7 linked regions of the Homo sapiens genome follow. The protein of the gene in region 1 purifies or fractionates together with the protein of each later gene. This does not show direct contact. Each region holds a gene or a part of one and is shown in the gene's direction. Other genes may lie near its edges.

Evidence for each region.
Region 2: the proteins of MYBBP1A (region 1) and STAU1 purify together in Homo sapiens (affinity purification with mass spectrometry; 2 studies listed by BioGRID and IntAct, with this or other methods). This does not show direct contact.
Region 3: the proteins of MYBBP1A (region 1) and CTCF purify together in Homo sapiens (affinity purification with mass spectrometry; 2 studies listed by BioGRID and IntAct, with this or other methods). This does not show direct contact.
Region 4: the proteins of MYBBP1A (region 1) and NCSTN fractionate together in Homo sapiens (co-fractionation; one large-scale study listed by BioGRID). This does not show direct contact.
Region 5: the proteins of MYBBP1A (region 1) and PUM3 purify together in Homo sapiens (affinity purification with mass spectrometry; 2 studies listed by BioGRID and IntAct, with this or other methods). This does not show direct contact.
Region 6: the proteins of MYBBP1A (region 1) and DDX54 purify together in Homo sapiens (affinity purification with mass spectrometry; one large-scale study listed by BioGRID and IntAct). This does not show direct contact.
Region 7: the proteins of MYBBP1A (region 1) and MCM5 fractionate together in Homo sapiens (co-fractionation; one large-scale study listed by BioGRID). This does not show direct contact.

The regions. Positions count from the first base shown.
Region 1 is NC_000017.11:4,541,501-4,545,708, reverse strand, and holds part of MYBBP1A (myb-binding protein 1A), read left to right. Parts: coding exon 1-99; intron 100-363; coding exon 364-450; intron 451-533; coding exon 534-683; intron 684-787; coding exon 788-958; intron 959-1,062; coding exon 1,063-1,220; intron 1,221-2,543; coding exon 2,544-2,796; intron 2,797-2,967; coding exon 2,968-3,093; intron 3,094-3,176; coding exon 3,177-3,245; intron 3,246-3,817; coding exon 3,818-3,925; intron 3,926-4,144; coding exon 4,145-4,208. UniProt on the Homo sapiens protein: May activate or repress transcription via interactions with sequence specific DNA-binding proteins. Repression may be mediated at least in part by histone deacetylase activity (HDAC activity).
Region 2 is NC_000020.11:49,181,617-49,185,834, reverse strand, and holds part of STAU1 (double-stranded RNA-binding protein Staufen homolog 1), read left to right. Parts: intron 1-4,218. UniProt on the Homo sapiens protein: Binds double-stranded RNA (regardless of the sequence) and tubulin.
Region 3 is NC_000016.10:67,610,766-67,614,983, forward strand, and holds part of CTCF (transcriptional repressor CTCF), read left to right. Parts: intron 1-58; 5' UTR 59-67; coding exon 68-848; intron 849-1,185; coding exon 1,186-1,356; intron 1,357-4,218.
Region 4 is NC_000001.11:160,352,860-160,356,610, forward strand, and holds part of NCSTN (nicastrin isoform 1 precursor), read left to right. Parts: intron 1-27; coding exon 28-132; intron 133-300; coding exon 301-378; intron 379-463; coding exon of another isoform or gene 464-472; exon of another isoform or gene 473-1,235; intron 1,236-1,258; coding exon 1,259-1,431; intron 1,432-2,795; coding exon 2,796-2,898; intron 2,899-3,003; coding exon 3,004-3,099; intron 3,100-3,400; coding exon 3,401-3,488; intron 3,489-3,740; coding exon 3,741-3,751. UniProt on the Homo sapiens protein: Essential subunit of the gamma-secretase complex, an endoprotease complex that catalyzes the intramembrane cleavage of integral membrane proteins such as Notch receptors and APP (amyloid-beta precursor protein).
Region 5 is NC_000009.12:2,819,896-2,824,113, reverse strand, and holds part of PUM3 (pumilio homolog 3), read left to right. Parts: intron 1-279; coding exon 280-333; intron 334-4,015; coding exon 4,016-4,096; intron 4,097-4,218. UniProt on the Homo sapiens protein: Inhibits the poly(ADP-ribosyl)ation activity of PARP1 and the degradation of PARP1 by CASP3 following genotoxic stress. Binds to double-stranded RNA or DNA without sequence specificity. Involved in development of the eye and of primordial germ cells.
Region 6 is NC_000012.12:113,171,632-113,175,849, reverse strand, and holds part of DDX54 (ATP-dependent RNA helicase DDX54), read left to right. Parts: intron 1-692; coding exon 693-814; intron 815-913; coding exon 914-975; intron 976-1,078; coding exon 1,079-1,210; intron 1,211-3,286; coding exon 3,287-3,497; intron 3,498-4,218.
Region 7 is NC_000022.11:35,419,922-35,424,139, forward strand, and holds part of MCM5 (DNA replication licensing factor MCM5), read left to right. Parts: coding exon 1-91; intron 92-1,396; coding exon 1,397-1,539; intron 1,540-3,292; coding exon 3,293-3,420; intron 3,421-4,218. UniProt on the Homo sapiens protein: Acts as a component of the MCM2-7 complex (MCM complex) which is the replicative helicase essential for 'once per cell cycle' DNA replication initiation and elongation in eukaryotic cells.

The DNA.
Region 1 (4,208 bases):
TTGGCCCAGCCCAGCCACCTCATGCGCCAGGTGGCCCGGAGCGTGTTTGGCCACATCTGCTCCCACCTGACCCCGCGTGCCCTGCAGCTAATTCTGGATGTGAGTTGGGACCTTTGGGAGTGGAATGTGGGCTGGGGCTCACTGAGCAGCGAGCTGCACCAGGGGTGCCGCTTCAGCCTCCAGCCTCCCTGCCGGGAGCCTGCGGCCGGTGGGAGGGGTCTCAACGAGGCCTTGGCCTGGCCTGGCCGCCTCTCCTAGGCTCCGTTTTCTTCTGGGAAATGGAGGTCTTTGGTCAAGGCTGAGTGGGGCCTGGAGAGGAGGGCGGGGGCTGCAAATGGGTCAGTGGCTGGCACCCCTCCCCAGGTGCTGAACCCCGAGACCAGTGAGGATGAGAATGACCGTGTGGTGGTGACGGACGATTCTGATGAGCGGCGGCTGAAGGGTGCAGAGGTGTTGCCAGCATGGGCCGGGCGGGGGCGGTGGGGAGTGGGACGATCGGGGAGGTGTGTGACGCGCCTGCCTCTACCACACAGGACAAGAGCGAGGAAGGTGAGGACAACAGAAGCTCAGAGAGTGAAGAGGAGAGCGAGGGGGAGGAGAGCGAGGAGGAGGAGCGCGACGGGGACGTGGATCAGGGCTTCCGGGAACAGCTGATGACCGTGCTGCAGGCTGGGAAGGCGCTGGTGAGTGGGGGAGGTGGAGGGGGGGGCGGCCGGGGAGGGCTCGGGTGTCCCCATGTTGTGTGCCTGCCCGAGGCCTGGCTGACCGCTGGGCCTCTGTCCCTCAGGGTGGAGAGGACAGTGAGAACGAGGAGGAGCTGGGGGATGAGGCCATGATGGCCCTGGACCAGAGCCTCGCCAGCCTCTTTGCCGAGCAGAAGCTGCGTATCCAGGCCCGGCGAGACGAGAAGAACAAGCTGCAGAAGGAGAAGGCTCTGCGGCGCGACTTCCAGATCCGGGTGAGCCTGGGGGCGGGCCGCACCCACCCCCGCCTCCCTGTGCGCCCACCCCCGCCTCCCTGTGCGCCCACCCCCGTGTTGCTGACCTGCCCTCCTGGCTGCAGGTGCTGGACCTGGTGGAGGTGCTAGTGACCAAGCAGCCCGAGAATGCCCTGGTCCTGGAGCTGCTGGAGCCGCTGCTGAGCATCATCCGGCGCAGCCTGCGCAGCAGCAGCTCCAAACAGGAGCAGGACCTTCTGCACAAGACGGCGCGCATCTTCACGTGAGCACGGGGGTGCAGGGCGGGCAGGTGTGGCCGGCAGCCCCCAGGCGCAGGAGAGCCAGAGCTCTAGGCTTGCTGTCTGCACAGGAAGGAGAGAGCCAAGCTTCCAGCCTGGGCCCCTAGCTCGCAGGCTCACTGCTCAGCCCTAGAGGCACACGTCACTTAGTGATTCCCACAGTCCTTGCTTCATCCCCGCGTTCTCCCGACACAGTGCCAACAGTGCCCTGGAGCTGGGGTCCATCCCTGCCCTTGACAGTCTCAAGTGGGGCTGTGCCAACAGTGCCCTGGAGCTGGGGTCCATCCCTGCCCTTGACAGTCTCAAGTGGGGCTGTGCTGGGGTGGAGGGGGACAGTGGGTGCACCTGTGGCAGGGGACACCCAACCCAGTCCTCGGAGGTGTAGTGTGCATGGGAGTTTGTCAGGCTGGGAGGCCTTGGGCAGGGCAGAAAGGGAGGAAGAGCATCCTGACGGGAGCTGGTCAGACACGCAGCTGGAAGGTCAGGCAAGCAGCGAGGCCACAGACCCCCGCACCCTCGCAGGCCCTGACCCTAGCGGTGCTGGAGGCCACAGAGGCATTATCAGCAAGAGCAGTGGCGTGGGGAAGGGTCTGAGTCTGGTTTGCCTTTTCAGAAACGGCTGGCAGCGTGGAGAAGGGTTTGGGAGGGGCTGTGCTGGAGGCAGAGGGCCCAGGAGGGAGGCGGTGGCAGGCGTGGGAGAGACAGGCAGGCACCTGGTAGACCTGCCTTCAGAGCTCAGGTGCTGGGGAGGTGAAGGCCTGGGAGCTGGGGCGCTGCGTGGATAGTCAGGAGGGGTGGGGAGTGTGACTGGCAGTGCATTCTTCACAAACCCAGGCCCGCCCGGGCCACGCCTTCTCAGATAGTTCTGCCAGCGTGCGTGGACAGTGTCGTTTGTTGAGCATCCTGCCTCTTGCCCCCATTATATCCCCGGCCCTGCAGGGCCACAGAGGGTTCTAAGCACATGAACCCTTGTCTCGCTTTACAAAAGGCCTGAAGGCCACTGCCCCATGAGAGACAAGTGTAGACAGGAGGGGTGCCCCAGGCAGGCAGTTGGCCCTTGGTGCAGCCTCCACTCAGGGAGCTGTTCTGTTCTCCCCTGGAGCGCCCCTGTCACCCCAGCACTCTGAGCCCACACAGCTTCCAGGCAGCCTGCAGGCGGCCCTGGGCCCTCCTCTGTGGCCTGGGTCGCCTCTGTCGTCTTCTAGGTCTGTTTCCCCACTTATAAAGTGGGACTTGGGTTGGCTCTGCTTGGCGGAGCAGGGTGGACCGAGAATGTTCTGACCAGCTCTCGTCCTCACCACCCACAGGCACCACCTGTGCCGTGCCCGGCGCTACTGCCACGACTTGGGTGAGCGCGCAGGGGCCCTGCACGCCCAGGTGGAGCGGTTGGTGCAGCAGGCTGGCCGCCAGCCCGACTCCCCCACCGCCCTCTACCACTTCAACGCCTCTCTCTACCTGCTCCGGGTCTTGAAGGGCAACACTGCTGAGGGCTGCGTGCATGAGACACAGGAGAAGCAGAAAGCTGGCACTGACCCCAGCCACATGCCCACGGGCCCGCAGGTGAGCAGGGCCTGGCCCAGGAGCAGCCCCAGGCATTTCACAGCCAGGGAGTGGAGGCCGGGACTTCCCCAGGGCCCAACCCTCAGCCTTCTGATGAAGGTAGGCCAGGCTCTGCTCCCATCCCAGGGACCCCTCTCCTGGCCTCACCCAGCTCGCTCTCCCCTGGCCTAGGCTGCCAGCTGCTTGGACTTGAACCTGGTGACCCGGGTGTACTCGACAGCACTGAGCTCCTTCCTGACCAAGCGCAACAGCCCCCTCACAGTTCCCATGTTCCTCAGCCTCTTCTCCCGGCACCCGGTGAGTGTTGGGGCCTGCCCTGCTTCCTCATGGTCCCTGCTCAGCCCAGCCTGCACCTCACAGCCCTTGTCACTCCCCACCAGGTGCTCTGTCAGAGCCTGCTCCCCATCCTGGTCCAGCATATCACGGGCCCGGTGCGGCCCCGTCATCAGGTGAGAGACTTCCCAGCTCCCAGCCCAGGGCCTGTCTGAATTAACCCGCTTAACCCTCTTCTGACTGGATATTGTGAGGCCCCAGAGCGCTGTCCTGGTGAGCACGGGCACAGCTGTCCCTGCCCCACTGGCTTGGCTGTGGGTACATGGTCTCTGAAGGGGGTGGCCGTGCCCTGGCCCCTGCCACACAGTGAACACACAGGAGCTGAGGGGGCAGGGCCAGCCTCACTCCCGCAGCCACTGCTGCCCATCTGGCCACACACAGGATGCCCCTGGTAGTGTCTGCTCTGGTGCCAGGGCTGTTGGGGGCAGGCTGGAGGAAGATGGCACTAAGCCAATAATGGGCAGGAATTGTCCCAACCTGAGGTCCCACCTCTATCCAGCTGGGAGGCCTTGGTGTCCCCACCTGCACACAAAGGCACAGGAGCAGGTAGTCACAGAGCCCAGAGCAGCAGGCAGCCTCACACGCTGCCCACAGCAGTGCCCAGCGGGCCCCCGAGCCCTCATGCATCCCTGAGCCGTGAGCACCCAACGTGCCAAGGCTCCTGCCACCCACCTTTGCCCACCCACAGGCCTGCCTGCTGCTCCAGAAGACCCTGTCCATGCGGGAGGTGAGGTCGTGCTTTGAGGACCCCGAGTGGAAGCAGCTGATGGGCCAGGTCCTAGCAAAGGTCACCGAGGTAACAGCCGGGGGGCGCCCTTTCCCCACCCCCTCAGAATCAGTTCTCCGGGAGACCGATCTCTGGGAAAGAAGTGAGGATTGGAGCCTGAGTCCAGAGTCGGGAGAACTGGGGTTGTCCCAGGAGACGGTCCCTGCCTCTGGGCTTTACTTCCGGCTGGGAAACAGAAAGGCTTTGAGCAGCTCTCCGGAGTGCCTCAGCCTGGCCACCCTTCCCTAGAACTTGCGCGTGCTGGGGGAGGCGCAGACCAAGGCGCAGCATCAGCAGGCACTGTCCTCCCTGG
Region 2 (4,218 bases), on another chromosome or scaffold:
GTCTAATACTGCCATATCACAATGGCATATTTCAATAGGGAAATGGTATTTTAAATACCATTTTTTAAAAACCTTTTATTCTGGAAAACATGCGAAACTCGAATAGTATGGAGAACCCCATGTGTTAGTCACTCACTTAGCTTTGACAATTATTAACTCATAGCCAAGGTCGGTTTTGTTTCATGTTGTATCCCCCCACACAAACTAGATTATTTTGAAACAAATCTTAAACATTGTGTCACAACATTAGCGATTTTGACTTTTACCAGATTGCCCCAGATTAAGGTCACAAAATTTACTTTTAGTAGAATAATAGTTCTCATTTTTGTTTGTTGGGCTTCCCTTCTCTGTTTATACATGATTTCTGTACAGCAGAAAAGAAGAAGAAAATTAACTCTTGATCCAATGCCTTCAGCTCCTCAAAATCAAAATACAACCTTGCTGCTTTATTGTGTACAAAAGCAAAAATTCTTGAGCTATTAATGACTATAATTGAAAAGCGAACAAATACAGATTTCCCCAGTCCTGTTTTGGCAGAGACCTGCCTTTTAACCCACTTTAATAGAGATAACTTTGTGTCAAAGTTAAACTACAGTTAATAATTCATAATGAAAACTTAAAATGTTTCTTTACAGTAGTTGTGTAAAGATACTGCTGTTACCTTAGGTTAAGAATTAAGCAAAAGATAATCTTCTAACATAGAATTGTTTTCCAAAGTGCCCCCGTCTGCCCTATTTCCAAATAACAAATTTAGCAAATATGAATGAAACCTTAATTTTTGTGAATAGTATGAAATCACAGCATAAGTGTTCACGTTTTTCTTTCTTGTGTCTAAAGGATCTCTCTTACAATGGAAGTTGACAGGAATATTATAAATATTATAAATGTCTTTGTTGCATAACTTTCAAATTTCTGGTCGTGAATAGTTTTCAGCTTTTAGGTCTGTTATTTGAGTTTTGTAGGTGTACTTTGAGCTTGATCAGGTACAGTGGAAATGTTACATGTTATGTTTTAGTTATGACTACCTGGAAGATGGGGAAAGATACACCTCTTAAAATTGATTTAGGAAAGAAACGCCAATTTAGTATCTGGGAAAGGACACAACACATTTTTAAAAATGTGTAGTGCTTCCCATTAAGCTTAACGTAAAACTTTTAAGCATTGAGAATTGTTACCATAAATATAGTTTCTTGAGAATAAGTTGCTCTCTTTTAGGTTTCAGCCAGAAAGTCCATGTATATACAGATTACAGCAGGTCCTTGAATAATGTTGTTTCAAGATAATGTTGAGAAAAAAAACTGTCTGTGGAGTTTACACGTTCTCCCTATCCCTGCATGGGTTTTCTCTGGGTACTCTTGATTTCCTCCCACATCCCAAAGCTGTGCACGTGAGGTTCACTGGTGTGTGGAGCTGTGTGTGTAAGTGTGAGTGCTTTCTGCAGTGGATGTCCTGTCCAGGACTGGTTCCGGCCTTGCACCCTAAGCTGCTGAGATAGGCTCCAGCCACCCCAACCCTGAACTGGAATAAGTGGTAAAAAAAAAAATTTTTTTTTTTGAGATGGAGTTTAGCTCTTGTCACCCAGGCTGCAGTGCAATGGTGCAGTCTCGGCTTACTGCAACCCCATGCCTGTAATCCCAGCACTTTTGGAGGCTGAGGTGGGCAGATCACCTGAGGTCAGGAGTTGGAGACCAGCCTGGCCAGCATGGCGAAACCCTGTCTCTACTAAAAATAAAAAAAATTAGCCGGGCTGGGTGGCGGGCACCTGTAATCCCAGCTACTCAGGAGGCTGAGGCAGGAGAGTTGCTTGAACCTGGGAAGCAGAGGTTGCAGTGAGCGGTTATCGTGCCATTGCACTCCAGCCGGGGCAACAAGAGCAAAAGTACTTCTCAAAAAAAAAAAAAAGGCATGTATACTTCACATTTATTTCAGTGTTTAATATTCGAAGTGTTTGGTCTTTATTTAAAAGTTTGGTGATATTTTTCTGATGAGAAATATGCCCTAGAACCTAACTCTTGTTTGTATCAATAAGCGTGTGTTAGTCGGAAGTCTCAGTTTCCAAGAACCTACCCCTTATGTTAAGAGAGGATTTACTGTATTTTAAGTTTAGAAATGGCCATGACTCATGGAACTCTCCTCCATCCCCATTCTAAAGTCCAGATCATTGATATCATTCTGGGTGTTATCAAAATGGATACTGCTTCATCCAGTCTCTCTCCCCAATACCACAAGGTAGTCTCAGTTTGTGGGGCAACTTTCTTTGAGCCTTTTTACTGGATTGAGTAAGAGTGTAATTCAGTATAAAGATGAAACTTTCATGAAAAGGGTATCTTTTTGTGGGATTCCACAAGTCAATCCCAGAGTTTGTCGCCCAGGCTGGTCTTGAACTCCTGAGCTCAAGTCATCTTCCCACCTCAGCCTCCTTAGTAGCTGGGATTATAGGCAGAGGCCTTGTTTTCATGAGCCTCTAAATTGGATCTTCTTATTTGATGTGATACCCAGTGACACAGAATTGTTCAATTTGAGGAAATATAAATTCCTCCCCTCTCAAATAAGAGCTTTGGAGTTGCTTTTCTCTCAGAATGGGATTTTAGAGCTTTCAAAAATGTTTAGAGAATTTTATGACAGATTTGTTTCACACTAGACCTATAACAGGTTATTTTACATTGACTTCTGGTGATGGAGACATTTGTGGTTGAAATGCTTCTCGTGTAATTTTCTACATGAGCTTTTCTTTAAATAAAACTTCACCAGAGTCAAGGCTGTATACCATTTGTGCTGTTCCAAAAAATATAAATTGCCAGTTATCAGTTGAACTATGAGAGGACATGTTAGTTGCTATGGTTATTTACCCCCACCATTTTATTATGAAAAATTTCAAACATATAACAAAGTTTATGAAGTTTTATTGTACATCTCTTTAGATACCATCTACTTTCTATTTTTGCCTCCCTGTTTCATGGTGCTGAACACCGTCTACTATTTTTTTTTTTTTTTTTGAGACGGAGTCTGGCTCTGTTACCCAGGCTGGAGTGCAGTGGTGTGATCTCGGCTCACTGCAAGCTCCACCTCCTGGGTTCATGCCATTCTCCTGCCTCAGCCTCTCGAGTAGCTGGGACTACAGGTGCCCGCCACCATGCCTGGCTAATTTTTTTGTGTTTTTAGTAGAGATGGGGTTTCACCGTGTTAGCTAGAATGGTCTCGATCTCCTGACCTTGTGATCCGCCCACCTCGGCCTCCCGAAGTGCTGGGATTACAGGCGTGAGCCACTGTGCCCGGCATACCTTCTGCTCTTTGTCATGAACATTTTACCATACAGTATTATGAAGCTTGAATAATGTTGGCCAAATCCATTGTTCTCACCTGCTAAGGAGATAATAGGATTATAAATATATAGCTGTGTTGATCTTATCAAATGCCACGGGATGGATGGGCTTGGATATCTGTCTTGTTGACAGCTTAATGCTCTGAACTAGAAAACCTTACTGCAGAGAAAAGTAATATTTTTAAAGTGGTAAAATGGGAATTACTGCAAATAGCTTAATTTGTTTTTTAAGTGTTTACATTCCCATACTGGTGAATAAGGTTGATGTAACAGTGATTTATGTCACCAGATAAATGGAAGTAGAGAAAAATTTCTGCAGGCTGTTAATTGCTGTATATTTTCTGGGATTACATATGTTTATTTGTTAAAGAAGTAGACTCAGGGAACTCCCTCAAAGTATATTTACTGGAAGCAAAAGTGGAAAAATCTATTTGAGAAAGTGTTTGCTTTCGATTAAAAATTAGTCTTCTGAATATCAAATCTGTAACCCATCTGGCATCTGTTTAATCTGGAATCTAATTTGGGAAAGAAGTGTGATGACTATGTGGGTTTATAACAGTAATGGAAGCAAAACTGGCCATTTTATTATGATAGAAATTTTGTGTCATGTCTCCCAGACAATAAAGGCTAAGAAAATCTATTTAAATACATTGGGGTCTTTTCCCCTGAATGAACATGATTGCTGAGGGTTAAACCTTCATTAGATTGCCTCTGCTTTTTTTTTTTTTTTTTTTTTTTTTTTTTTTGTTGAGATAGTCTTGCTCTGTTGCCCAGGCTGGAATGCAGAGGTATCATCTCGGCTCACTGCAACCTCCACCTCCTGGGTTCAAGCAATTCTCCTGCCTTAGCCTCCCGAGTAGCTGAGACTACAATTGAGCACCACCACGCCCGGCTAA
Region 3 (4,218 bases), on another chromosome or scaffold:
TATTTTTATTTAGACATGCTTTGCTTTAAATAACAATCTGTGTTCTCCCTTAATAAAGGCAGGGGAAATGGAAGGTGATGCAGTCGAAGCCATTGTGGAGGAGTCCGAAACTTTTATTAAAGGAAAGGAGAGAAAGACTTACCAGAGACGCCGGGAAGGGGGCCAGGAAGAAGATGCCTGCCACTTACCCCAGAACCAGACGGATGGGGGTGAGGTGGTCCAGGATGTCAACAGCAGTGTACAGATGGTGATGATGGAACAGCTGGACCCCACCCTTCTTCAGATGAAGACTGAAGTAATGGAGGGCACAGTGGCTCCAGAAGCAGAGGCTGCTGTGGACGATACCCAGATTATAACTTTACAGGTTGTAAATATGGAGGAACAGCCCATAAACATAGGAGAACTTCAGCTTGTTCAAGTACCTGTTCCTGTGACTGTACCTGTTGCTACCACTTCAGTAGAAGAACTTCAGGGGGCTTATGAAAATGAAGTGTCTAAAGAGGGCCTTGCGGAAAGTGAACCCATGATATGCCACACCCTACCTTTGCCTGAAGGGTTTCAGGTGGTTAAAGTGGGGGCCAATGGAGAGGTGGAGACACTAGAACAAGGGGAACTTCCACCCCAGGAAGATCCTAGTTGGCAAAAAGACCCAGACTATCAGCCACCAGCCAAAAAAACAAAGAAAACCAAAAAGAGCAAACTGCGTTATACAGAGGAGGGCAAAGATGTAGATGTGTCTGTCTACGATTTTGAGGAAGAACAGCAGGAGGGTCTGCTATCAGAGGTTAATGCAGAGAAAGTGGTTGGTAATATGAAGCCTCCAAAGCCAACAAAAATTAAAAAGAAAGGTAAAACGAGTTTATCCATAGTGGTTTCATAAAACCATTTTGGGATAAGCATACAACACAGTGCATATGCAAGTTGTTTTATATTAACCGTATTTGTAAAAGGTCGTTATGTGGGTACCGTTCTTTAAAACCAGTCTAAAATAAGTTTTTTCCAGATTGAATGCTCTTTTTTTAATCCCAAAGAAGAAGGAAATGTATTAGTGACATGAGATAATTATGACTTATATTGGGTTTTGTTATTAAAAGCTAATCAAATATATTTGTAGAAATTTAAGATTAGGATTAATCTTAACACTTTGAAACTCTGCAGCAAGTAAGTGTTTTATTTTGCACATAGGTGTAAAGAAGACATTCCAGTGTGAGCTTTGCAGTTACACGTGTCCACGGCGTTCAAATTTGGATCGTCACATGAAAAGCCACACTGATGAGAGACCACACAAGTGCCATCTCTGTGGCAGGGCATTCAGAACAGTCACCCTCCTGAGGAATCACCTTAACACACACACAGGTGCTGGATAAGAATGTTGGGGGCTACAACAGCAAATGCTCAGACTTCGCTTTTTAGTATTCATTCAAGCTGACTCCAGCGGGAATTTAAAGGAAGTTTTTATTATTTCTTATGATGCCCTTTTTGTAATCATGATTTTATTGTAAGCACTTGGACTTAGTTATTATAGACAAATGTAAAGAAAATTTAATGAAAAATAACACCCTCTCTCTTAAAAAAAAGAAGTCTCAGGCAATAGATGCCTGGTACTATGAGGAAGAATGTTAGAAATAGAAGTGAAATCCCAGTGAAACCCTGTCTCTACTAAAAATACAAAAAATTAGCTGGGTGTGGTGGTGGGCGCCTGTAGTCCCAGCTACTCGGGAGGCTGAGGCAGGAGAATGGCGTGAACCCGGGAGGTGGAGCTTGCAGTTAGCCGAGATCCCACCACTGCACTCCAGCCTGGGCGACAGTGCGAGTCTCCGTCTAAAAAAAAAGAAAAGAAAAGAAATAGAAGTGAAATCCTACCTTTATTTAAAAAAAAAAAAGTGGCCGGGTACAGTGGCTCACGCCTGTAATCCTAACACTCTGGGAGGCTGAGGTGGGCAGATCACTTGAGATTAGAAGTTGGAGACCAGCCTGGCCAACGTGACAAAATCACATCCATCTGTACTAGAAATACATAAATTAGCCAGGTGTGGTGGCGGGTGCCTGTAATCCCAGCTACTCAGGAGGCTCAGGCAGGAGAATCGCTTGAAACCTGGGAGGCAGACACTGCAATGAGCTGAGATAGTGCTACTGCACTCCAGCCTGGGCGACAGAGTGAGACTCCATCTCAAAAACAAACCTTAACATTTTTTGTTTCTGGTTGTTTCACGTCAAGGAAGATAATTCATAATTTCAGAATGGAAAAGCTAAGGCACCATTCTGATAATTCAAACATTTATTTGAGCATCCTACTTACTTTAGTGTTCAGATATTCTGATATTAGCTTCATGTTGGCTGTGGCCAGGTTCCCTGAGGTCTCTAAAGTAGAGGGACTCTGTGCACTAAACCTCTCTTTAAGCTTTCCTGAGCTATTTGTTATCCCAGTGTAGGAAGTTGGTTGCAAGTCTTCTCACATGGTTTTTCATGCAGAATAACTTCATTTCATATGACAACTCTTGTTTTTGATTTTTAGGTTTTTAAAAATTTCTAATGACAACCCTTGTTTTAGATTTGTTGTGCTGGTTGTCAGATGACCATGATCAAGTGGGTGTTAATCATAAACAGTATGCTGCACATGGGCACATTCTTCACTAATGTGACTTACTTTTAAACATCTCCCTAATTTCTACTCAGACACTTGATAATATGTTTTATTTGATACTTTGAAGACACTAGGATGGGGCATATGACTAAATAAAAGTAACTGGGTAATCCCAGCACTTTGGAAATCCAATGGGGGGTAGATGACCTGAGGCCAGGAGTTCTAGACCAGCCCGGCCAACATGGCAAAACCGCCTCTGTACTGAAAATACAAAAAATCAGCTGGGTGTAGTGGCACACGCCTGTAAACCCAGCTACTTGGGTGGCTGAGGCAGGAGAATCACTTGAATGCGGGAGACAGAGGTTGCAGTAAGCCAAGATTGTGCCACCGTACTCCAACCTAAGTGACAGAGCAAGACTCTGCCTCACCAAAATAAATAAATAAATAAATAAATGGCCCCATAACAGGACTTCCCAAGATGGGTGTGCCTTGGTGTGGGCATTCTCTATCTGGTCTTCAGCTTTGAAAGTAAGAGGTACAGTCTATCTGGTTACTCAGCAGATTTGGCAAGACTGATTCATACCAACAAAACCCATAAGAGCAGATGCATACACCAAGAGTATCAGTTTATGGTGAGGAGTATACCTTTTCATGTTCCAGATGCAGTTGCATTGCATTCTAGGGGGCGCCTTTGCCTCTGTTACGATGCTGTAGCAGCCGGGCGCCGTAGCTCTCGCCTGTAATCCCATCACTTTGGGAGGCCGAGGTGGGTGGATCACCTGAGGTCAGGAGTTCAAGACCAGCCTGGCTAACATGACGAAACCTCGTCTCTACTAAAAATATAAAAATTAGCCGGGCGTGGTGACGCATGCCTGTAGTCCCAGCTACTCGGAAGGCTGAGGCAGGAGAATTGCTTAAATCCAGGAAGCAGAAATTGCAGTGAGTGGAGATCGCACCATTGCACTCCAGCCTGGGCGACAGAGTGAGACTCCATCTCAAAAAAAAAAAAAAAAAAAAAAGATGTTGTAGCAATTGAAAGCTAACTTGGTGAGGATGAGCCTTGATGGCTGGGCATGGTGGCTCACACCTGTAATCCCTGCACCTAGGGAGGCTGAGGCGGGTGGATCACTTGAGGTCAGGGGTTTGAGACCAGTCTGGCCAACATGATGAAACCTCATCTCCACTAAAAATACAAAAATTAGCCAGGTGGCCGGGTGTGGTGGCTTACGCCTGTAATCCCAGCACTTTGGCACTTTGGGAGGCTGACGCGGGCAGATCACCTGAGGTCAGGAGTTCAAGACTAGCCTGACCAACATGGGGAAATCCTGTCTCTATTAAAAATACAAAATTAGCCGGGTGTGGTGGCACATGCCTGTAATCCCAACTACTCGGGAGGCTGAGGCAGGAGAATCACTTAAACCCAGGAGGCGGAGGTTGCGGTGAGCTGAGATCGTGCCATTGCACTCCAGCCTGGGCAACAAGAGCAAAACTCGGTCTCAAGAAAAAGCCAGGCATGGTGGCCCATGCCTGTAATCCCAGCACTTCGGGAGGCTGAAGCAGGCGGATCACAAGGGCAGGAGATCGAGACCATCCTGGCCAACATGGTGAAACCCCGTCTCTACTGAAAATAGAAA
Region 4 (3,751 bases), on another chromosome or scaffold:
CCCCTCCCACCTACCTCCATCTCTCAGGAAACTTTTGACTACATTGGCAGCTCGAGGATGGTCTACGATATGGAGAAGGGCAAGTTTCCCGTGCAGTTAGAGAATGTTGACTCATTTGTGGAGCTGGGACAGGTATGTGGCATGTCCCCCAGCCCCTTCCTTTTTAATTAAATCTTCCTCCTTTGTTGTTCTGCGGTCTTAACTGCAGGAACCACCGCCTCTTCCCTTGACTTCTATCCCCTAGGCATGGCCCAGAACAGGAGACTGATTCTAAGTGTTGTTTCTTCATCCTCCCCCCAGGTGGCCTTAAGAACTTCATTAGAGCTTTGGATGCACACAGATCCTGTTTCTCAGAAAAATGAGTCTGTACGGAACCAGGTAACCTGAGCATCTCCCCTCATTTCCTATTCCTACAGCTCAGAATCCAGACCCCAACCCCTGCCCTGTTTCCACCAACCCCCAGGGCCTGTGAGACAGGGTAAGAGACAGGATTGGATTGGGTGTTGGCCAAAGGATGAACACCACAGCTGTTGTTGCTGCTGGGAAGAATCAGGAACTCAGTGACATTCCATTGGTTCCCTGGACTGGGTAGTTCTCTGATCATTTGTTGCCTAGCAGACTACCACTGCCCATTAAGGATAGGTGAGTGACTAGCTCCCTTCTTGCCTTGCTGCCCCATGGATCCAATTGTCAAGGCTGCTCTACCCAAGTCCTGGCTGTGTCACACTCGCTGCCCAACTTGTCCTCCACTTTCCTCATTGCTTGTTCAAAACCTTCCCTTCCCTCTAGGTCCACCTTTAGGCCTGCTTTTTTCCAGGTGGTCCTCTTTCTGCAATTCCAGCCTTCAGCATCATCCCTGCTCTGGACTCCTGTAGCATTTAAAGAATTGGTTATCTGTTTGGCATTCAGCACGCAGTTTTCTATTATTATTTGCTCCCTTCAATTCTGCACAATAAATAATAAGTGAAGCATCCACTGAGGATAAAGCAGAGTCTTGAAGACAGTAGAATTTACTTATAAATATGAAAAAAAAGGTCTCTTCTTTATGCCCCAATTTTCTAACTCTAAAAAGAATGGTGGAAGCTACAGGAAATTCAGAGAGCCTTGGTCCCAAAAGGCTTGAGGGATAAAGGTCTACTAGAGATAGGGTAGCTCCCCAAGCAGGGAACTTGAAGTATAGAGCATTTCAGGCCTAAAAGAGACCTCCTGCTTCCCATCCCCCAGCCTCCCATCAGTTAATCTCCCTCGTACCCCCCAGGTGGAGGATCTCCTGGCCACATTGGAGAAGAGTGGTGCTGGTGTCCCTGCTGTCATCCTCAGGAGGCCAAATCAGTCCCAGCCTCTCCCACCATCTTCCCTGCAGCGATTTCTTCGAGCTCGAAACATCTCTGGCGTTGTTCTGGCTGACCACTCTGGTGCCTTCCATAACAAGTAAGAATCACTTGGCCCTGCACCCTCTTCATTCTTGAAGAGAGTCTATTCTGCAGTCTGGGAGGAAGGTCACTGCCCTCCGCTTTCCCACACTACCCCCTCCAGAACTTCAGGTCCATCTGTATTCTTTGCTCAGTGGCGTTTTCACATCTGAACTGAAACCCTTATTTGTTTGACTGGATATTCATCTTAGAAACTCATCCTCACCCTTAGCCCTTTACTGTCAACAATCCTTGGTTATGGTTCCACTGCTCCCTAGCTCTCCAGGGTCCTGAGTTCCTCAGGGTTGCCAGCAGAGGGCATCATCTCAAACACAAGCATGGGAAGGATGGTGGGGGCCCTTTGGCTAGAAGACAGAAAGCAGTCCTTCTCTGGAACTCACCCAGAGGTGCCAGAAACAGTATTCATACTCTGTGAAATGTACCATGTTCTTGCCATGTGGTAGATGGCCATGGTTCAGTGCGAGGGTAAAAGTGCCTCCTATAGCTGATGGGGCTCCAGAGATACAAAGGGTAACTCTGGGTTACCCTTTAACTGCTCCTAACTTGAGGCCTTGGATAACAGGGGACTTCTTACTCAGGCTGGATTGCCAAGCTTCCCGAGGGCCAAATGAGTTTCGTAGTGAAAATGCTTGAGCTCTATTTCTGACCCCAGCCAAGTAGCACCTTCTCATTCATTTAGGGGAGTGACCGTCCTAGCACTTAGGGTCAGCTGTCTTCTCTAAAGCTATCCTTGTACCACTTTGGGGCAAGTGAAGATTCATCATTTGAACACATTTTGGATTTGATTATGTAGCTGACTTGACTTTGTGTGGGACAGGGATTTACTGATGGTAAAGACTGTGGAGCTCAGCCTCTCTTTTAAGATCTATCTCCTTGGGGCTCCATAAGGATCATCATGGTGATTTTATCAGTGTATTCTTATATATCAGTGAGCAGACCTGATCCTAAGACCTGCTAATCACCTCCTGCTCCCAGCTACCCTAAATATAAATGTTCATTGGAACAGTTATACAACTGATCTCATGATACATGGCAGAGTTCTCTGAAAATCATCTTAGCCATCCCCCATATCTCCAGCCCAAATGATGTAGAAGAGTCTCTCCTTTGTTTAAAGATCTGAGCTCATTCAGCTTTTCTACCTTGTCTGTCAGGAAAGTCTTTAATTTTCACTAACCACCTCACCCTCACTCCTACCTCCCTGTTCTCCACACCTTCTGCAATATGGGATCCTGATTGTCTCTCACCCCTTTCTTCTGATGCTGAAAATGAGATACTGAGTCCCTGCATAAGGAGCATTTGAGGGAGGAAAGGGGCAGAGCCCTGGCTAAATGTAGCCAAGGCTCATGCCGGCTTTCCTGGCAGATATTACCAGAGTATTTACGACACTGCTGAGAACATTAATGTGAGCTATCCCGAATGGCTGAGCCCTGAAGAGGACCTGAACTTTGTAACAGACACTGCCAAGGTAGCACTGAGCCAGGCTGGGTGGGAGCCTGGGGCACACAGTGAAGATGCTAGCATTTGAGGATAGGAGAGGTGGGCCATTCAGCCCCCTCCTCACCTACCACAGGCCCTGGCAGATGTGGCCACGGTGCTGGGACGTGCTCTGTATGAGCTTGCAGGAGGAACCAACTTCAGCGACACAGTTCAGGCTGATCCCCAAACGGTAAGCAGATGGGCCCTAGCTCCTTCTTTCTATTTACACAGCAAGCTGTCCCTATCCTCCCTTGCCCTAGTGTCCCAAACCTTGGAATTCCACATGACTGTTGATGCCGGTGAGAATGCCTCATGCCCCAGAGAGCTCTTGGGTGGGCCTCATCTGCATCTTATGAGCCAGCTACTGTCTCCCAACTCCAGTCTATCTGGCCAGTCTGGTTCCTGCCCCATGACTGGGTCTCCACTGATAATTCTTTCCCTGGGCTCCCTTCAAGTCACAGGGTTTTCTCTCTTTACTGTTCCAATCCTAGGTTACCCGCCTGCTCTATGGGTTCCTGATTAAAGCCAACAACTCATGGTTCCAGTCTATCCTCAGGCAGGACCTAAGGTCCTACTTGGGTAAGCATCTGGTGTGGGAATGGGACCCTTAGCTGAGGAAAGGGATAGAGAAAAAGTCTTTTGGTTTAACCTTTATTATTTTTTTTCTTTTTCCTCTCTGTTTTTCTTACCCCCTGTTTTCCTTTCTTTCTTCTCATATTTGATGGATCCTTTTCCATTGCCCTTCTTTCTGGCTGCTGCCAATCTTGGGCTTTTCCTATTTCACCCACCATCCACCCACCAAATCTTCCCTTCCCTTTGGTCTGCACTCAGGTGACGGGCCT
Region 5 (4,218 bases), on another chromosome or scaffold:
CTGTCTGGTCTCACTGTGAAAGGTGGCTTGCAAACCCTAACCCTAACCCTAACCCTAACCCTAACCCTATCACATACACATCTAAGCTTGTAATAGCTCTAAGCCAACTTCTTTGGTATATTACAGTTTTTTTGTTCTGGCTGTATAACTATTATTTTTACTAATGAAAACATATGCCACTCAAATGAAAACTTAATAAATATTATATTAAAATGTTTAACTACAAAATACCCTTAATACATAACTGAAAATTCAGTGAGACAATCTTTCCTTTTTAAGGACAGGAAAGTGATTGTGAAAACAATGAAGACTTATGTTGAAAAGGTGGCTAATGTAAGTATAATAAAACTACATATTCTAATTATTTTTGATAGTAAGATGAATTCATGTCTATTATAGAAAATTTGGAAAAATTCAGAAAATTACCAAGCAGAAAATTATTGTTTTATTATATTTTTCTTTGCATCTACATGTATTTTCATATTTTATCTACACAAAATGGAAATCATGTCACATGCATTCTTTTCTCCTTTTTTAATTTAACATTGTATTGTGATAGTTCTCTACTTTTATTAGATATTCTTTGAAAACCTGATATTTACTAGCTTTTTTGGTGAATTTGTCCAGTCATGTTAATTAAATATGGGAATTACTGCCTGGATACAGTATGTACATATTTTAGTCTCTGGGTAAATGATGCCAGATTGCACTTCAGAAACTTGATAGTAGTTTTCCTTATGACCAAAACCATAAAAGAAATTAAAATGTATCTTTTTTTTAAGAATAAATTTGCAGTGTGGTTATGGAAATTTTTAGTTGTTAAATTTTATAGCTCTTTAGAAATGCAGTAACAATTTTCCTAATGAAATTCATAGGTACAAAAGTTTTTTCTGGGGGATTTGTTGCTTCAAAAATAGTGTTTATATGTTTTTAGTTATTAAATAATTTTTCATGCTGTTGCTATGGTGTACTGTAACTAGAATATATGTAGTGAATACAATTTTAATTTTTGAGTTATACTTTATATATTTGATGGATAACAAATTTCTAATTTATTGATGAACTAAAATTATGTAGTAATCAACTACTTTATCCTTTGAAAACATCCAGTGAGAACTACTAGCATCTGGGGAATACTTCAACTTGTTTGAAATACTAAATCAAACAAGTTAAAATTAATGCTGTGTGATTGTGTACTTGACTATTGTCTTCTGTTGGGCTAGAAATTAGAAGAATTCAGAAGGCAGCTAACGTTCCTATAATAAAGTGAAATATGGAATTCTCATATTTTTTATAATTCATAATTCAATATTCATATATATTTCATAATTCATAATTATAATATGAATTATAATGTTATATATTATATAACATTATATTATTATGTTATAAATATAAATATAATTCATAATTATAATTCATAATTCAATATTAAGTAAATTTTTTTGCGTGACATTCTAATTTGAATACCTTACATTAAAATGAGTAAAAACTAGAATGTTAATAGAAAATTCACAAAGGTATTAAGAGTATAACATTTTAAAATAATAAAATTATATTGTTTTAGTTCTACAGTTTGTTTATGTCAGGTAATTTAACACTAAGTACATATCTTTTTAAATCTCGAAGAGTTACTTCTAAAGGGGTGATAAGCTAACGTTACCCATGGATTTGATCCATGGATTATTTGGAATTATTAATTTCCAAATATTGGGGGTTTCTGGATATATTCTATATTCTTTTGTTCCTTTTAAATTTACTGAGACCTGTTTTATGGCCTAACATATGGTCTAAGTATTTTGAAAATAATATATTGTAGAGTTGTTTGGTGGGGTATTCTATATTTGTCAATTAGATCAAAGTAGTTGACAGTGTTCATACCATCAGTGTTTTTACTGACTTATTATTTTCTAGTTCTATCAGTTGCTGAGAGAAACATGTTAAAATTTCCAACTATACTTGTGGATTTGTCTGTTTCTCACTTACATTCAATTCTGTACCACCTTCTGTTGTATTCACCTAGAAATATTTTATGCTTGGTTATGCTTATGTGTGTCCGAGTTAAGAGAACTGAAACCAGTGATTTTGTACTAGGCACGTTGTTCTATATTTTGTCTCCTTCACTTAATTCATATTATGGGTCATTTTATTTCAATATACATACATCTGTCTACCTCACTTTTCTTAGTGACTGTAATATTTCATCGTGTGCCTATACCATAATTTATTTAACCAGTCCCCACTGTTGGGCATTTTGGTAGTTTCTAGAGTTTTTAAAATTACAATTAGTACCCCAGTGAATATATTCATATGTAAGTCTTTGTACTTACATGGAAACACGTCTGCAAGATAAATCCCTAGAACTAGAATCACTGGATCAGCTCATACCTGCATTTTAAATTTGTATAGGTGTTGTCAATTGCTCTTCAAAGAAGTTGAACCACTTTACATTCTCATCAACATAAAAGCGTGCCTGCTTTTCCCTAAACCTTTGATAAATTAGTCTATTGTCAGAGGTTTTCACCATCACCCATAGGATAAATGGCATTTCATTGTTTTAATTATTGTCCTTAATTAGTTCATAAAGCATTATTTCATACATTTAAAGACATTTGTACTTCTGTTTTAGTGTGATCTGACTCTTCATGTTCTTTTTTTTTTTTTTTTTTTGAGACAGAGTCTTGCTCTGTCGCCCAGGCTGGAGTGCCGTGGCGCGATCTGGGCTCACTGCAAGCTCCGCCTCCCAGGTTCACGCCATTCTCCTGCCTCAGCCTCCTGAGTAGCTGGGACTACAGGCGCCCACCACCATGCCCAGCTAATGTTTTGTATTAGTAGTAGAGATGGGGTTTCACCCTGTTAGCCAGGATGGTCTCGATCTCCTGACCTCGTGATCCACCAGCCTCAGCTTTCCAAAGTGCTGGGATTACAGGCGTGAGCTACCGCACCTGGCTTTGCCCATTTTTAGTTGGTTGTTGGTCTTTGTATAGTAAGACCTTTGTTGTTTGTCTTCAGTTTGTCTTTTTGACTTTACAGTTAGCAACTTCGTTATTGTTTCTAATTGAAATTGTATTATCTGTGATATTTATCAGATCTGGCTCTGAATGATTGTGGGCTATTATCAAAAATCAAATTCCTATCAGAGTTTGAAACAATTATATCAACATCCAGGATACTCATGCCACAAGCTCTGGAAACAGGTTTTTGTTTTCTTTTGTTTTTGTTCTTAACATAAAGTAGGTGTTCTTTAAATGTTTGGAACAGTATTAGCATCATGGAAATAATTTTATTTCAAAAGATGAGTGTTGTGAAAGCCACATGTGTATTTCTGTGATCTCATGCAGCTATACTTTTTTTAAAGTAATGATTTTTATATCATTCTCATTCAGTGTATAATTATACTCTTCTAGTTTATTTTTTCATATTTATATTCTAATTTTGTGAGATCACTTTAAAGAAATTGAGCAATATAGAAAAGAAAATTAAAAATCATTTGTATAACCCAGAGATGACTATTACAATGCCTTGCCTTCCAGGATTTTCTGTGTACATGTATTATGTATATCGTGTGTGTGTGTGTATGTGTGTAAAATTGTATGAGTTTATATTTTCTTTTTCATGATTGGAGTATCATATATGTGTTTATATATGTAGGTTTTTTGAAGTTAATCTTATAACTTGAACTTTTAAGTATAATTTTCAAGTAGCTATTCATTAACAGTAACCTATGTAAATAGGTATTAGTTTTAGACTATTTGGTAATGAATAATGTGCTTTAAAAAAAAATCAACCTTACCTCTAGAATATAATTAATGAGGTCGTGATAAGAGAGGAAGTTCATTAAAATGGCTTTTATTCATCTTGTTATGTTAGACAAGTTGTCAATGTAGGTAATCTTTTTTTTTTTTTTTTTTTGAGCGGAGTCTCGCTCTACCTTTATGAAGATATTCCATGTGTGAAATAAGAGGGAAGATCTATGCACTTGTTTTTAACCTTTGCTGGCTTCCAATTCTTGCAGGGCCAATACTCCCATTTGGTTTTACTGGCGGCATTTGATTGTATTGATGATACTAAGCTTGTGAAGCAGATAATCATATCAGTAAGTAATCCTGATGGTCTTGAATTTAAGTTACATCGATAAACCAGTTGTGGATGTGTAAGCTTGATTTCACCATGCATGTGTAAAGACTTGCAGCTGTGCCTTCTATCAGTATTTTTGCT
Region 6 (4,218 bases), on another chromosome or scaffold:
TCCTGAGTAGCTGGGAATATAGGCATGCGCCACCATGCCCAGCTAATTTTTTTTTTTTTTTGAGACGGAGTCTCACTCTGTTGCCCAGGCTGGAGTTCAGTGGCATGATGTCGGCTCACTGCAAGCTCCGCCTCCTGGGTTCACGCCATTCTCTTGCCTCAGCCTCTCGAGTAGCTGGGACTACAGGCGCCCGCCACCACGCCCGGCTAATTTTTTTGTATTTTTAATAGAGACGGGGTTTCACTGTGTTAGCCAGGATGGTCTCGATCTCCTGACCTCATGATCCGCCCGCCTTGGCCTCCCAAAGTGCTTGGGATTACAGGCCTGAGCCACTGCGCCCGGCCCCAGCTAATTTTTTATTTTTGTAGAGATGGGATCTCGCCTAGGGTGTTCTTGAACTCCTCCTGCCTTGGCCTCTCAAAGTGCTGGGATTACAGGTGTGAGCCTCTGCAGCCAGCCTGGGCTGCTGTCATTTATTTCAGCATGAGTTTGTAAGAACATGACCAAGACAGATTCCAGATTTCAAGGTTATTGTTGTTTAGGATGAAGTCACGTGATAAGTGTGAGTGGGCTGAGTTAGAGTGAGGCAAGCCCTGGGACACTGCAGAAGTTGTGGGGACAAGGATGGCTGCGGTTGGAACTCCAGGGAGTGAAGGCCCCCTCTGACCCAGTCCTGCCCTCTACCCTTCCAGGCTTTTTGAAATGGGTTTCGCAGAGCAGCTGCAGGAGATCATCGCCCGCCTCCCCGGGGGCCACCAGACGGTGCTGTTCTCCGCCACGCTGCCCAAACTGCTGGTGGAATTTGCCCGGGCTGGTGCGTGAGCTGGGGGTGGAGATGGGGGCTGGGGGTCAGGCTGGGGCCTGGGGGCCAGTCCCTCTGCGACTCCCCCACTTTCCCCCATGTCTCCTGCAGGCCTCACGGAGCCCGTGCTCATCCGGCTTGACGTGGATACCAAGCTCAACGAGCAGCTGAAGGTGAGGCTGCACCTGTCCCATCCCAGGAGGTTGTGTCCAGGTGGGCCCTGCAGGCCCTGGGCCAGGACCCCGTAAGCCAACACGTGATGCCCTCTCCCCACAGACCTCCTTCTTCCTCGTGCGGGAGGACACCAAGGCTGCCGTGCTGCTCCACCTGCTGCACAACGTGGTGCGGCCCCAGGACCAGACCGTGGTGTTTGTGGCCACGAAGCACCACGCCGAGTACCTCACTGAGGTGAGCAGGGTCCTGAGTGGGAGGAGCACCTCCTTCAGCTGGAGTTTGGAGCTGCAGTTCCCTGTGCAGTCACTAGAGGGCAGCACGAGAGCGGACCAGGAGCCTGGGCCTGGGCTCAAGATGGTCATTTTTATTTTTATTTTTTATTTTTTTGAGACGGAGCCTCGCTCTGCCATCCAGGCTAGAGTGCAGTGGCACAATCGTGGCTCACTGCAGCCTTGACCTTCCAGGCTCAAACAATTCTCCCGCCTCAGCCTCCCGAGTACTTGGGACTTCTGGCGCATGTCACCATGCCCAACTAACTTGTTACTTATTTTTATATTTTGTAAAGACAGGTTCTCACTCGGTTGCCCAAGCTGGTCTTGAACTCCTGGGCTCAGGTGATCCTCCCACCTTGGCCTCCCATAGTACTGGGATTATAGTACTGGGATTATGAAAACATTTCTTTTTTTTTTTTTTTGGAAATGGTATCTCACTCTGTCGCCCAGGCTGGAGTGCAGTGGCACGATCTCAGCTCACTGCAACCTCCACCTCCCAGGTTCAAGTGATTCTCCTGCCTCATCCTCCTGAGTAGCTGAGACTTCAGGCGCCACCATGCCTGTCTAATTTTTGTATTTCTCATGGAGACGGGGTTTTGCCGTGTTGGCCAGGTGGGTCTTGAACTCCTGACCTCAAATGATCTGCCCGTCTCAGCCTCCTAAAGTGCTGGGATTACAGGTGTAAGCCACAGCGCCTGGCCTAAACTTTTTATTGTGAGAAAATTTCAAACCAATTCTAAGATCAGAAAATAATATGATGAACCCCGGGTACTCGTTATCTAGGTACAACTGTTACCAGCTGATAGCTGGTCTTGACCTTCATCCGTTAGTTCCCCTTACATCCGGGTTATTTTGAAGCCTGTCCCTGCCATCCTGTTATTTTCCTGTAGATTTTTAGTATGTGGTTTGTTTGACTTCTTAAGATTGAGGCATGACCTGCATGTAGCAAGCTGTGTGAAGCGCTGTTAGCATGTGTGAGTGGCTCAAAGATTTTTTTCATATGTGTTATGCCTGTGTGACCCCCGCCTGGGTCAAAGCCTGGGGAGTCGCTGTGCCCCAGAAGGCAGTGGGGCCCCTTTCCGTTGGTGCCTGCCTCCCTGTCAGCTACACCTGGGTCTGTTATCTGAGGACATGGTTCACTGGGTTTCACTTACTCCACACACAGTTAACAACACTCCCTCTGTGCAGCTGCTGGGGTCACCAGTGAATAAGACCAAAATAGTAATTTTTAAACAGTTGTTTTTTTAGAGAGAGTTTTGCTCCTTTGGCCAGGCTGGAGTGCAATGGCATGATCATGGCTTACTGCAACCTCTGCCTCCTGGGCTCAAGTGATCCACCCACCTCAGCCTCCGAAGTACCTGGGACTGTAGGCACAAGTCATGCCTGACCATGCCAGCTCATTTTTTATTTATTTTAATTTTTTTTGTAGAGATGGTGTCTTGCTGTGTTACCCAGGCTAGTCTCGAGTTTCTGGTCTCAAGTGATTTTCCAGCCTTGGTTTCCCGAAATGCTGGATTACAGGCGTGAGCCACCATGCCCAGTTTAAATAGTAATCTGTAAAGAACAGCTAGCACTCTCATGAGTGTTCCATGTTGAGACTCTGTTCTCAGCACTGTATATACTGACTCATGTGATCCTCATAATAAGGCACAAAGAAGGGGCAGTTATTCGTACAGATGAGGAAAATGAGGCATAGAAAAGTTTGGTAACTTGCCCAAGGTCACACAGCTTGTTTGTAGCAGAATCCGGATAAGGCTTGTGCACTGAGGTGGCATTTGCAGCTTCCCTGAGAGGGCCCTCTGCACACATCATCTCTGATCCTCAGACAACCCTGCAGAGAGGTGGGAGGTGTTGTAAGCTCCATTCCTCCCCAAACTGGCATCACCCAGCAAGCTGGGATTCAGACCAAGGGTGCCAGACTCCAGAACCCGTGGTCTTGTCTCTGCACCTCAGTGCCCGTCCCCCGCCATGGTCTGGCTTCCTTTCCTTTCTCCTCCAAGTCTCCTTCTCACTTTGCTACCATCTTTGCTCTGAGCAGCTGCTGACGACCCAGCGGGTGAGCTGCGCCCACATCTACAGTGCCCTAGACCCGACAGCCCGCAAGATCAATCTCGCCAAATTCACGCTTGGCAAGTGCTCCACTCTCATTGTGACTGACCTGGCCGCCCGAGGCCTGGACATCCCGCTGCTGGACAATGTCATCAACTACAGCTTCCCCGCCAAGGGCAAACTCTTCCTGCACCGCGTGGGTAAGCAGCCCGTGGCTGGCCCTGGGGCAGGCAGGGGTGCCGGATCCTGGCAGAAGCCGAGGGTACAAGGCTTAACTCTTGACACTGCACATGGGGTGGCTGTGGGCCTTGTTTTAGAGACAGAGCCTCGCTATATTGCTTAAGCTGGTCTCAAACTCGCGATCGTGCCACTGCGATCCAGCCTGGGTGACGGAGCAAGATCTTGTCTCAAAAAAACCAAAAAAAAAAAACAACCCAATTATTCAGCTTATGGTTTTTTTGACTTTACAATAGCACCCATACAGCTGTTCTATTTTTTTCTTTCAGTACAGTATTCAATAAGTTACATGAGATACTCAACACTTTATTTTAAAATCGGCTATGTGTGGGATGATTTTGCCCAAGGGTAGGCTAATGGAAGTATTTGGAGCATGCTCAAGGCAGGCTGGCTGAGCTGCGATGTTTAGTGGGTTAGGTGCCGTGCGTGTGTTTTTGACGGCTATTGGGTTTATTGAGACGCAGCCCTTCGTAAGTCACGGAACAGCTGTGGTCTCATTTCAGAGATCACTGTCCCCCATTGCTCTCTGATGACATGGCCGTCATTTTGGTGTGTGTCCATTCTTCTGATGTTTCTATTTTAAGTTGTGGTAAAGTAGACATAGCATGCAATTCAGCATTTTGCCATTTCCCAGTGTGCAGTGGAGTGGCATTGAGTCTGTTCCCATTGTGCAACTGTCACCAC
Region 7 (4,218 bases), on another chromosome or scaffold:
AACTGAAGAACCGCTACATCATCATGCGGAGCGGGGCCCGTCAGCACGAGAGGGACAGTGACCGCCGCTCCAGCATCCCCATCACTGTGCGGTGAGCAGGCGGGCAGGGCTGGGCCATGGCAGATGGGGCTTGCTTTACACAGCAGGGTGTGCTTGGCAACCAGGGGCAGTGGTCCAGGCTTTTCACTTGGCACAGGCCCATAGTAGCTCTGGGCAGGAAGAGTCCCTTTGGAGCATAAACTATGGCCTCCTTGATCTCAATGATGATCCATGTTTCTTGATTTAAGGCCGGGCAAACCTAGACCCCTCTTGTCTGAATTTGGCCTGGCTTCTCCCATTGTAGGAAGCCCGAAGGGAGGGAAGGACCCAGGCCTGGGAGTCAAGAGTCTTGGGTCCCAGCCTCTAGCCCACTGTGTGACTGTAGGGAAATTACATTCCTTCTCTGGCCCTCAGTGCTTTTAGCTCCTAACTCTGTTCATTCTTGTGACTTTGTAGACAATACAGTGGGTAAGAGTTGGGATTTACCTGGTTTGAATCCTGTCTCCAGCACTGACTGGTTGGAAATGGATTTGGCTATAAGTAATGGTAAATCCAGATAAAGTAGCTTAAAGAAATAGGAAGTTCATTTCTCTTTTCTGTAGCACTGTCTGGAGGAAGATGGTATGGGGACTGGTGTGAGGACTCCTCAAGCTCCCCCTTACTCTTAGTCCGAGATGGCCGCTAGAACTTCAGCCATCACCTCCAGGCAGCAGGACAGGAAGGAAAGAGAGCTTCCCTTTTAAAGGACACTTCATGAAGTCCCACACAATGCTTGGACTTACAACTTACTGCCATAGATTGGTCACACAAATACAACCTGGTACAAAAGATGTCTGGGATGTGTTTTAGTGGATCGCTGTGTGCCAGACTAAAAACTGGGGTTCCAAGCTAGGTGCAGTGGCCTACATTGTGATCCTAGCACTTTGGGAGGCTGAGGCAGGAGGATTACTTGAGGCCAGGAGTTTGAGACCAGCCTGGGCAACATAGCAAGACTCCCATTTCTACAAAAAATAAAAAATTAGCCAGGCATTGTGGTGCATGCCTGTAGACCCAGCTCCTCAGGTGGCTGAGGTGGAAGGATCACTGGAGCCCAGGAGTTCGAGGCTGCAGTGAGCTATGATCATGCCACTACATTCCAGCCTGGTCCACAGAGCGAGACTTTGTCTCAAAAAAAAAAAAAAAAAAAAAAAATTGCAGTTCTATGACTAAGATCAAAAGGGAGATGGATTATGGGGACACCTAGCAGTCTCCACCACAGTCTTACCACTTTGGGCAAGCACCTCCCTGGTAACGGGCTGGCTGGGGAGGAAGGGAATAGCGGACCGAGGCTACCCTGAGCACGCTGTTGCCCCCACAGGCAGCTGGAGGCCATTGTGCGCATCGCGGAAGCCCTCAGCAAGATGAAGCTGCAGCCCTTCGCCACAGAGGCAGATGTGGAGGAGGCCCTGCGGCTCTTCCAAGTGTCCACGTTGGATGCTGCCTTGTCCGGTACCCTGTCAGGTGAGCAGATGCAGGGGCCATGGTCTCAATTGATCTGGGTTCCCTGGCTCGGAGCTCTGTGGGCAGGGCTCTGGCCTGCTGGGGGCCTGCAGTGTGTGTCTTGCTTCTCTGAGTTTGCTGAGCTTCTCTGAGTTTCTTTTTGCCATAAGACCCCTCTCCTCCTTTCTCCCCACCGCTGTTTCCTCCAAGATGGGAAGAAGCAGCTTCTCTCCAGACCCTTGAACACAATCCTCTTGACCCAGGTCATTGATGATAACCCTTCTCACTGGCTAGGAACAACAGTTGATGCTCTGCTTCCTAGAGCTTGTCAGCATTTTCAGTGCTTCCAGAGTTATTTCTTGCATTTTGCCTTACAGCTGCCCCCTGGAAGCCAGGTGAGCAGTCAGTCCTGCCCATGTTAGAAATGAGACAGCTGACACTCGAAGGGGCCTTTCCCTGGTGCCCAAGATCACAGTCGCTTGGCTGGAATGCAAGTCTCCTGGCCCCTAGGCCAGCGTTTTCCACACCATAAGCCATACTGTCTGGTTTCGGTCAGCCTTTCAACAGACTGTCCCAGGCACCGATCATGAGCCAGGCTACCTACGCTGGGGAAAATCTGTTCCTTCACCCAGCAGATACTTCATTAGTGTTACTGTTTGCCAGGCACTGTTCTAGGTGCTGGGAGTATAAGAGCAATCAATCACAGGGTCCCGGCCCTCCTGGGTTCTCATTCTCGTTCTAGTTGGGGAGAGATAGACAGTAGAGAAACAAATGCAGGTAGTGTAGGTAGTGAAAAAGGCAGTGAGGGAGATGATGGCAGGGCCAGGTGTGTTGGAAAAGGAGGACGTGCTCTTTCCCATGGAGTGAGTGGGCATGGCCTCTGCAAGGAGGTGATGCCAAGCAGGGAGCTGCATGAAGGGGACAGTGTGGCTCCTTGGGGGAAGAGCTGCTCAGGTGGAGGCAGCGCTAAGTGTCAGTTTCCCCAGGAGGGAGCAGGTTTGGTGCATTTGAATGGGGAGGCACTTGGGTGAGGAATGGGGTGGGTGGGGCCTGTTCCTCCTGTCCCCCTTGGTGAAGACTCAGCCTCTACCCTGGAGACACTTGCTGTCACATGAGACATTGCAGGTGGAGGCCTCTGGGATGCTGCAGGCACAGAGGGCAGGGGTGATATGGAGTGGTGATAATTTGAGTTGGGTCTTATGGGCTATGTAGGAGTTTGCCTCACAGACTCCCCTCTCAATGACTTCTTGACCATGAGCCCACCATCTCCTTAGCTGAAACACCAAGGCCTCTGTGGCAGTAATTGGAAGTCACGAGCCTCCTGGTTGCCGAGGGCTCCTCAGGGCACCTCGTAGATGTGTCCAGGGCAGGCTGGCTTCCCTCCTGGGTCACTGATGGGCCCCTTCCAACTCTCTCTCTAATCTATCTGCTCCAGCAACAAAAGGAGTCCTGCTGTGGCCTCCAAGGGCCCGCAGGACTTGGTCCCTAGTGACACTCTGGCCATGTCTCTGCTGCGCTGGGCCCCGGGCTGCTTTTTGAATGAGACAGGTGTGTTCCTGCCTCTGTGACTTTGTGCTTGGCCTGGAGTGTCCCCACATGTGCCATATCCTGTCTCCTCAATCAGGCCTGCACCACCCTGGCACACTCGGTGCCCTTTTCTGACTTACTCTTCGGGGCCTGGCTCAGGCTGTTCTTCCTTGGGCTAGAGGCTGTCTCTGTCCAAGAACTCCCATTGTCCCAGCTCCCCGGCTGCCTCACTTCTCCATGCCCACAGGGGTGGAGGGCTTCACCAGCCAGGAGGACCAGGAGATGCTGAGCCGCATCGAGAAGCAGCTCAAGCGCCGCTTTGCCATTGGCTCCCAGGTGTCTGAGCACAGCATCATCAAGGACTTCACCAAGCAGGTGAGCCTGCCTTGGAGTGGGGGTGTGAGCCGGCACGGGGTGCAGGTCTTCTGCTGGTTCCCACCCACTCAGCACTGGCATCTTACTCAGCAGACAGGCCCTGAACGGGGGTAGGATGGACAACTGTCCCTTTCTCAGACCTTTTCTAGCCATCATTCCTTCCCTAGGGACATCTTCATCAGGAGCAGGGATGGGGGTATTTTTTCTGTCCCACGAAGGGGAGGGGAGAGCAGAGGTGGTTGGATTCTGGTGAAACCCCATACAAGTTCCCCGCAGCCCTTCCCGTCTGTGCCTTTCCCCGTTGGCGGGCGTTTCATGGAGTGGGAAGGGGCAGAGCCATGAGAGTGAGCTTTCTGGCTCACTGAGGAGGGTACTGTTGGCCCCATAGAGAGAAGATGGGATTTCCCAGATGCTCTGGAAAACCTGTCACCTTTAAAATCTCAGGATTAATCCTAGTTTCTGGTCTCCGCTCCTTGTACATCATCTCATTTTGATTCAGGGCAGTTTAATGGGTGGTATCGTGTCTATTCTATAGGTGCGCAGACTGAGGCTTAGAGAAAGGTTTAGAGCTTCGGTTCTAGAGTCAGATGGGACTTAAGTCCCAGCTCTACCTCTTAATTGCTGTGACCTTGAGCAAGTGGCTTAGCCTCCGTGTGCCTCAGTGTCTGGTACACAGTGGGCACTCAGGAAGTGTGGGCCCTTTAGGTCAAAGGAGCCTGAGTACAAAGTTCCCCGTGAGCCTGGGGATGTCTGGGCTCTGTCGGAGTCCCCTCGGGCAGCACGTGCCGTTAGCCAGCC